Regions from separate parts of the Homo sapiens genome. Here all the other regions are linked to region 1. Evidence: fine-mapped QTL for protein levels in blood plasma. A gene starts in region 1. Each other region holds a variant in brackets. All regions are shown on one strand. Distances are from middle to middle. Region 1 holds the start of FAM13A (family with sequence similarity 13 member A). Region 2 overlaps FAM13A (family with sequence similarity 13 member A). Region 3 overlaps HERC3 (HECT and RLD domain containing E3 ubiquitin protein ligase 3).

Evidence for each region. A credible set is the group of variants that fine-mapping cannot tell apart. PIP is the chance, under the fine-mapping model, that this variant and not a neighbour inherited with it causes the effect. The UK Biobank Pharma Proteomics Project read protein levels with antibody pairs (Olink). The fine-mapping took linkage between variants from a reference panel, not from the people measured, so its PIPs are less certain.
Region 2: its variant is the best candidate, but not a certain one, in a credible set for the plasma level of the FAM13A protein (UK Biobank, PIP 0.70).
Region 3: its variant is the best candidate, but not a certain one, in a credible set for the plasma level of the FAM13A protein (UK Biobank, PIP 0.61).

What each region holds. Positions count from the first base shown.
Region 1 is chr4:89,056,044-89,058,811 of GRCh38, forward strand. FAM13A (family with sequence similarity 13 member A) reads right to left here and starts at 1,142. Exons shown (of 24, transcript NM_014883.4): 1 at 895-1,142. The coding sequence starts at 921. RefSeq lists an enhancer at 443-1,005.
Region 2 is chr4:89,010,199-89,012,966 of GRCh38, forward strand. The region is part of intron 3 of FAM13A (family with sequence similarity 13 member A); the gene reads right to left. Among named protein-coding and RNA genes, the nearest start is that of FAM13A, 46 kb to the right of the region's middle. The variant A/AAGGG (reference allele first, on the strand shown) is at 1,025.
Region 3 is chr4:88,695,048-88,697,815 of GRCh38, forward strand. The region is part of intron 23 of HERC3 (HECT and RLD domain containing E3 ubiquitin protein ligase 3); the gene reads left to right. It overlaps NAP1L5 (nucleosome assembly protein 1 like 5), which reads right to left. Exons shown (of 1, transcript NM_153757.4): 1 at 866-2,768. The coding sequence starts at 2,707. The coding sequence ends at 2,159. Among named protein-coding and RNA genes, the nearest start is that of NAP1L5, 1.4 kb to the right of the region's middle. The variant C/A (reference allele first, on the strand shown) is at 1,243.

The sequences.
Region 1 (2,768 bases):
TGATTTTTTAAGTGAGCAGTTAAGGTGATAATAAGGAAGAAGATATTTCTCATTTAATACATTCTAGAAAATAAAATGTCCCTATGGAATACAATAGCAACTTGAAACATAAATATGTGTAATTCTCATACAGATATATGCATTTTCTATATAGTACAATCAAAATTTAAATTACAGCATTCTGCAAATTATATAATTGACAATTTTTGATTATTACAAAAGGTTTTGTACAAGCACCAGCAGAATAATTTAGAAATTCATAAATTCTAAAAATTCTAAAACTCCAGAAATATGCACATTTTCCCAAGGATTTTATTTCAGTGTTATTTATTAATGCTACTGTGTTATAACAACCATTCATTTCTACAGTTTAAGGATACACAAACATTTATCAACTGAGCTTCTCCACCATCACTTTCAGCAATCATGCTGAAACAGAAACTCCAGAATTACTAAACGAAAATAGAAATATAAAACAGAAAAATGTCACACACATACTCAAAAGTAATAAATTAATGGTTACTTCAATTCCTCCTCAAGCTAGCCACAAGATTTCTCTAATAGCTATAATGAAGCATTCATGTTTAACTATTCAGGGACAAGAAAGTCTAAAATGCTTGAAAGTGCTCTACTTTAAATCAAGTTGACTTAACGGAATAAATCAGCATGCATCTTTCACCTTTTTTGGAAACTAAAGTGCACAAATATGCTGAATGCCATCCCAAATCCTGCCTAATACCCATTTAAGTAGATAGGAATTTAAGTAACAAATCTTTCCCCACCTCCTGGGAAGGAAAAATAAGTTACACAAACATCTCATCAAAACAAGGAAGGCAAGGCCCTCTCCTAAAAACTGGCAGTAAACACAGAAGACAGAAGAAGGCCTATACTTACACAGATGGCTAGAGCTCCTGCCCCCATTCTCTCAGAAAGCGTCTGGAAGAACTGAGGAAGACCAGACGAAAATATTAAAACGACAGCAAAATACTAAAATTCCATTCAGCACATATTCTTTGATGTGAAAAACAGCTCCCAATGCAAAGGCCCCAAGGTAAGCGAAGAGCAGCTTCTAACATTTTAGGAAGAGTGGTTTTGCTTCTCTTTCCGCTGAACCCACATGGCTGGAAGGACTGCCTGGAGTTGAAATTTGATCCACAGCCTCAGTGCTGGCAAGTAGAGGGAGTCACGTGACACGGGTCTTAAGTCGCTGACATCTTTTTTTCAAACCTGACTCCCTAGATCCTACACACAGGCTTCTTTGACTCCGAAAACTGCCAGTCACCTGGTGGCTTTCATTAATAGAACCAACAGTGCATAAAGTGAAAACACAGACTTGCTTCCCAGATTCCACACAGCTCTAAGCAAAATGTACGTATTCAGACTCAGGTTTAAAACTGCAGGCACATTATTCATTTTTTCTGAGGCAGTTTTCTCTTCTACTCTTCCTTAGAAACCAGCTAAATTCTACCAAAATTTTCTTCCTTCCATGCTACCCCATCAGAATTGTTTTAAATGAAAATGCTCTATTTTATGTAGCCGTTACTACTTCTAATTATGTATGAGTTGTCTTATAAAAATATACTGATGATAAACATAAACAACATACTTCTAGACAACCATAATTCTACATATGTGATTTGCAGTCTGAAAAATTAGCTAACTGACTTTTCAATAACTTTCTCTTCCACATGCTGTCACTAGAAAATTTGATAGATTTTAAAATTTACAAATATTTGAACTAATAGCTAAAATAGCCACTTCAGGTAAGCCAAAAGGAAACTATCCTATTTTTATTTTTGTTACCATTTTTTCTGTCAATTTGTTTTTCTTTTTTCTTTTGCTGTACCTATTGACCCATCCTCTAAGTTCTCTCCCCTCACCCCCAACCTCCCAACAGGCCCTGATGTGTGTTGTTTCCCCTTTGTGTCCATGTGTTCTCAATGTTCAACTCCCACTTATGAGTGAGAACATGTGGTGTCTGGTTTTCTGTTCCTGTGGTAGTTTGCTGAGGATGACGGCTTCTAGCTTCATACATGTCCATGCAAAAGACATGATCTTGTTCCTTATTATGGCTGCATAGTATTCCATGGTGTATATGTACCACATTTTCTTTATCCAGTCTATCATTGATGGGCATTTGAGTGGGTTCCATGTCTTTGCTATTGTAAACAGTGCTGCGATAAACATATGTGTGTATGTGTCTTTATAGCAGAATGATTTATACTCCTTTGGGTATATACCCAGTAATGGGACTGCTGGGTCAAATGGTATTTCTGGTTCTAGATCCTTGAGGAATCTCCATACTGTCTTCCACAATGGTTGAACTAATTACATTCCCACGGACAGTGTAAAAGCGTTCCTATTTCTCCACATCCTCTCTAGCATCTGTTGTTTCCTGACTTCTCAATAATTGCCATTCTAACTGGCTCGAGATAGTATCTCATTGTGGTTTTGATTTGCATTTCTCTGATGATCAGTGATGGTGAGCTTTTCTTCATAGGTTTGTTGGCTACATAAATGTCTTCTTTTGAGAAGTGTCTGTTCATATCCTTTGCCCACTTTTTGATGGGGTAGTTTGTCTTTTTCCTGTAAATTTGTTTAAGTTCCTTATGGATTCTGGATATGAGACCTTTGTCAGATGCATAGTTTGCAAATATTTTCTCCCATTCTGTAGGCTGCTTGTTCACTCTGATGATAGTTTCTTTTGCTGTGCAAAAGCTCTTTAGTTTAATTAGATCCCATTTGTCAATTTTGGCTTCTGTTGCCAT
Region 2 (2,768 bases), 46 kb before region 1:
CTACTCTGCCTCTGCCTATATAAGTAAAACTTTAACCTCTCTACTTTGAACCTCTGTCCCCATTCCTTTGGAGTCTGTGTTTCCCGAGTGGTTATCCCCAGGCTTTGTACCGAATAAACTCTAAACTTAATCATATTTTCTGAATTTCATCATTTAAGGTTGACACTACCAAGTGTAACAGACAGCACCTAAGCCTTTGGGCTAAGTCCCAAATTTGCCTGGAGGTAGGGAAAGAGCATTAGGCAGCCACAGAAAGTTCCTAGAAAGTTGAAGACTGTCTCTTCCTTTCAGGACAAAAGATCAGGTCTGAGGAGCTGAAGCACTTTAAAATGTAAAGGTGCTACCCTGTGTACAGATAGAAAAGAAAAGATTTGAATAACTGAAGACAAAGGAACAGTAGTTGCCTCTGGCCTTATCTAAACACTAAGTTTGCAGGGATCTTTCCCTGGTGCTACTACAACTCACCTCACAAATTTCTTTCTCATTATTAGTATGTATTCACAACCATCTGATAAACTGGCCCTCTGCCATCATGTGGTTCTGTGGACCCCATCAAAGGTACAGACACCAGGGTCAGGCCACCAGACTACCCCTTCCTAACACAGTTTCTCAGGTCATCTCAAAACCTCTGACTTTTCTTACCCTCATTATCTTTTCTTTTTTTTTCTGAGATGGAGTCTTGCTCTGTTGCCCAGGCTGGAGTGCAGTGGTGCGATCTCGGTTCACTGCAACCTCCACCTCCTGGCTCAAGCGATTTTCCTGCCTCAGCCTTCTGAGTAGCTGGGATTACAGGCACCTGCCACCACGCCTGGCTAATTTTTGTATTTTTAGTAGAGACAGGGTTTCCTCATGTTGGCCAGGCTGCCCTCAAACTCCTGACCTCAGGTGATCCTCCCATCTCGGCCTCCCAAAATGCTGGGATTGCAGGTGTAAGCCACCATGCCTGGCCATCCTCATTATCTTAATAATTACCAGCTACGATGTTCTCTTCATGTTTTCTGTCTGTCTCTGGTAACCTTCCTTT[A/AAGGG]AAATCCCATGATGAGTTTCTTTTTGGAATGATGACAAAGAAAGTATTGGCACTGGATAGTGGTGATGGTTGCACAACACTGAGATTATACTTGATGTCCCTGAATTGTACTTAAAAATGGTTAAAATGGTAAATGCTATGTTACGTATATATTTACAACAATTTAAAAAATTTTCATTGTCCACTATTTATCTGATACAGATGGTTATAGGACTATGACCTAGATTTCTGTTAGCCTTCTAGATGTTCTCTCTGCATGTAGCATCTTCCCATCTAACCATCTTACACAGCACTGCCTAACATACTGCTTCTATTATGTGAGATCTTTCTTAAACATTTTATTATTTATATATAAATATTAATTTAACACTAATATTCAAGACCCTATACCACCTAACCTCAACCTACTTTTTCAATGGTATCTTTTGCTAATCTCTTCTAGCTACAGATAGCTCTGTCAGATAACTCTGTCTTACCGTGTTTTTGCTCATGTCCTTAACTCACTTAAAAGATTTTCCTCTCCATACAAGTTAATGTTGTCTCCAATCTTATTTTTCCCACAAAGTGTTTTCTGACCACCATAATCCAGGCTGGTTTTCTTCCCTCCTTGTTAGTTACCACTGACTGGATGTTTTTATTGTTCATTTAAAGCACTATTGTAGAATATATACAACATATCTTCTACTTCCTCAATTAAATCACACACTCCTTAAAATCAAGATGTTTAATTTTTCATTTCTTTGTATTACTCAGTATCTATTTAGAAGTTACTAAAAAAAATACTGATGGATGATCTAATTCCAAGTCATCAAATAACAATAAAAATACTCAACTATGATCTAGAACTACTTACATTTATATTAGAGAAGAATTTTCCACAGGAAACAGTCAATTAAAAATATTTCTAGTTAATCCTAAATTAAATGAATCCTCTTCTGCAATCTTTTTATGGCTTACAATTCACACCTATTTCCAAAACACACATGAGATTACAAAAATAAAAAGTACATATACTACTGCCCTACCAACATAAGGATAAAAGATCAAAAGGCATGGAATACACCAAGCTGAGATAATCATACTATAAACCTTGATTAAGGAAGATGAGTTGCTGCAGTCAGAGAGAAGCCTAACATGGCAATAGGAAAGGATGATCACTGAAGGTCCCTTCGAGTGTGTCTCTTAAATATAAATTGTCTAAACCTCTGAGAGGTATTGTGAGGCCTCTGAAAGAAGTGAAAGGTTCTGGAAGAAATAAAATAGAGAAAGAAGTCTTTGATAAAAATCTGTCATGCAGGTATACTGATTTGCTAACTAAAACCCATAGAATCTCAGAGCTTCAGACATCAGACACATCCAAAGTGTATAATTTGTTATAGAAATGAATGAATTTAAACAGTTTTCTCCCATGGAGGGCCACTGTTCATCTACAAGATGTTAAGGGTCAGGGATGCTTACAGACATCCAGACTGTTCTCACTGGCAGTTTGGTTTAGCCTAAATGTCTGAAAAAATACTTAGGGCTCCAGAACTCCATCCTATAAAGCATGGAAGAGAGGACTTTGATCTGAAAAATTTTAAGCACATTCAACTATGAAATCACTTGCTGTTTACACAGGATATAATTCAAAGGCCTACAACAACATTAAAAAAAAAAGAAATGTAGCATTGACTTGTGACAGAATACCAAGAAAACAATTTAATCTGTTATTATGAGGATGGATTTATGAAAGCAGGGTAGTCAC
Region 3 (2,768 bases), 360 kb before region 1:
GAAAAATAGTAAAATGATAGTCTCTCTCATTCCTGGATATAAGAAATCAATATTAAATTTTATTAGATTTTTTCTCTATTAAGATAATCATATGATTAAGATAATCAGAACTTTGTATGTAACGTATTATTCTGATTTTCTCTTTTGGTTGGCCTGAGCATAATGAAGATTAACTTTACCTTAAGGTTGTTTGTACTCAACAATCTGTTGTGATTAGCAACAGGTCAGTGCTGCCTTCCATTCCCTAGGATAAAGCAATATAATTTTGCTTCTTTGTAATTTTAACCCTTCAGGGAAAAGGAAGCAAATGGCATCTGATTTTTTAATTTTTCTGGAGTCCAGTTTTTAAAAAAAACTTTCTGCTTCATTCAGAATGAAGCAAACATAAAGTTGAAATAGCCTTTTTTATCCTTTCTGGGAGATGATAAAAACCTGATATTATATTGAGGAAACCAAAACAAGATAGTTTATTTAATTTCCTGCATTTCTGAATTAAAGGCCACATTCTTCTCTCATAATAAGGAATCAAAAACATAGGGAGGGATGTAGTGATGTCTCTTTCTCCCATTTTGTAACAGGAGAGGAGGATTGAATTTCCAATCACTGTCTTTATCTTTCATGTAATAATAATAGCTAAGAATTATTCAGCACTTACCATGGTTTGGATGCTATTCTATAGGATTTATATGTATTAATCCATTTGCTCTTCATAGTAACCCATGAGGAAGGGACTATTCCTATTCCCTTTTGTAGATGAGGAGAAACTGGCCACTGAGAGTATTAGCTGAGTTGCCTAAGGTACATTACTAATAGGAGGCAGAGCTGGGATTTGAATGCAGGCAGTCACAGTACCGAGTCTTTTATATATATTTTTTGAAAATACTGTTTTATTAACACCACAGTGATAAACAACTTTAAGCTTATGTTTCTTTATAGATCACTGGCTCACACATAATTCAAAACCCACACAGAAGCTAAGAGTCTTTACATTAAATATATTCTTCCTAAAAATCCTTACTGTATGCATCTGTCCTCAAGCAGTAAAATTTGATTATGCACCATTTTATAATTAATATGTCACATTTACATAGCAAAATAATGAAGGCACAGCTAATACAAGCAAACTTAAACCCTTTCTACTTCTGAGCTGGGGGTAGGGGCACACACTTGGATTGGTTCTTCAAGTATATATTTTTTCCAAACATTAGCTTCAGTGAAGAGTTCTGATGATTTTCACAGCTA[C/A]ACCCTAAAAGCTACATGACAGAAAGACGTCACAAGGCGCAAAGTACATAACGCTGGATACACATGCTTTACATAATTTGCTACATTCTACATCTCTTCAAGTAAATTAATATTTCTAAAACGCTAGGTAAAGTGATTTAATACTTAAACATATTTGGGGTATTTTTTACGTGTTTGTAAATAGACAGTACTAAGAAAACACAAACATGAGATTGTAACTAATGAATACATATGTTGACAGTATTTTACAGGTTTTACACCCTCCTTCTTGGAACCATGTTGTTTCTCTAAATTCAAATACTCAAAACATTTTTCAGAACTTGAAATGGCAGTTTTCCTGGCCTTATTAACAGTAGTGTCATGATCTCCATTGCAATCTTCCTCAATGCCATCAATCTCCTGTGAAGTGTAAAGCTGATGTCTGCGTTACAAAAGCAAAGTCTCAAAGATGACGTTTTTCTTGGGTTCTGCCTTCTCTGCACTGCGAAATGTCATGAGTAAAGAAATTTAAGAATTAAGCACTGAGAACGTGTTCAGTCATGGCTTGGGTGTTCCATGTGTAGCGTATGCTGTGTGATGAATGGGTTTCAAAGTGACGTTCTTTACTTCGCATCTGCTAACACCCTTTGTAAACCTCAATCCTCAGAGAAGAGACCATGAAAACATAATTTTGGGTTTAATTCAGTTTTCTTTAACACCTTTTGATATATTTATTATGTTCAAAATGAAAGTCAAATTTGAATCGAGCTGGCCAGGATCTAATTGCTTTAATTTAATCTATTTTAGGAATGTCAGAATAAATTCACATTGTATTTTGGTCAAAAACCTGAGCCTTTTTAAGTCCATCGATATTCTGGGAAAAACAAAACCAGGCTTTTTTCTTCGTGGGCTTTCTCTTCATCCATCTCTGCCCCCCTTACTTCTTGGCGTCATCAGGCATCTCGGCGTGGGCATCGTCATGTTTGGCCCCCGCGGCAGCCTCTGCCGCAGCCTCCTCCTCCTCCTCGTCTTCCCCCTCCTCCTCGTCATCCTCGTACTCCTCTTCCTCCTCCTCCTCCCCCTCCAAGGTCCATGCACACCCCTCCATCTCGCCGGTGAGCTCTTGGATCTTGGCGAGTAGGGGCTTATAGATGTCATTATACTTTTTTTCCAGAGCCTGAAATTCCTTATCAAATTTGGCTTCTATCTTATCGCATCGCTTCTGCAGCTTTTTGAGGGCCAGGACTCGGCATTTCACCGAATTAGGCAGGCTCTCGATAAAGTCATTTTTCGGCTTTGGGGCATTCTCTGCAGGGGTCTGGGGCTCCTCAGCCATCTGACCAGCCGCGCTGTCAGGGTCACCAGCCGCGCTGTCACAGTCTCCACCCTGCGCACCGCCTTCCGCCATTACCTCCTCTGCCGCTGCCTCCGCCGCTGCCGCCGCCTGGCTAGGCTCCGCAGGCCCCTGGTTTTCCGAGTCGGCCATGTTAGAGGAGAAGCCGCAGAGGTCTAGGAGGGCTCCCGCAGAGGCCCTGCACCCGAGCTGG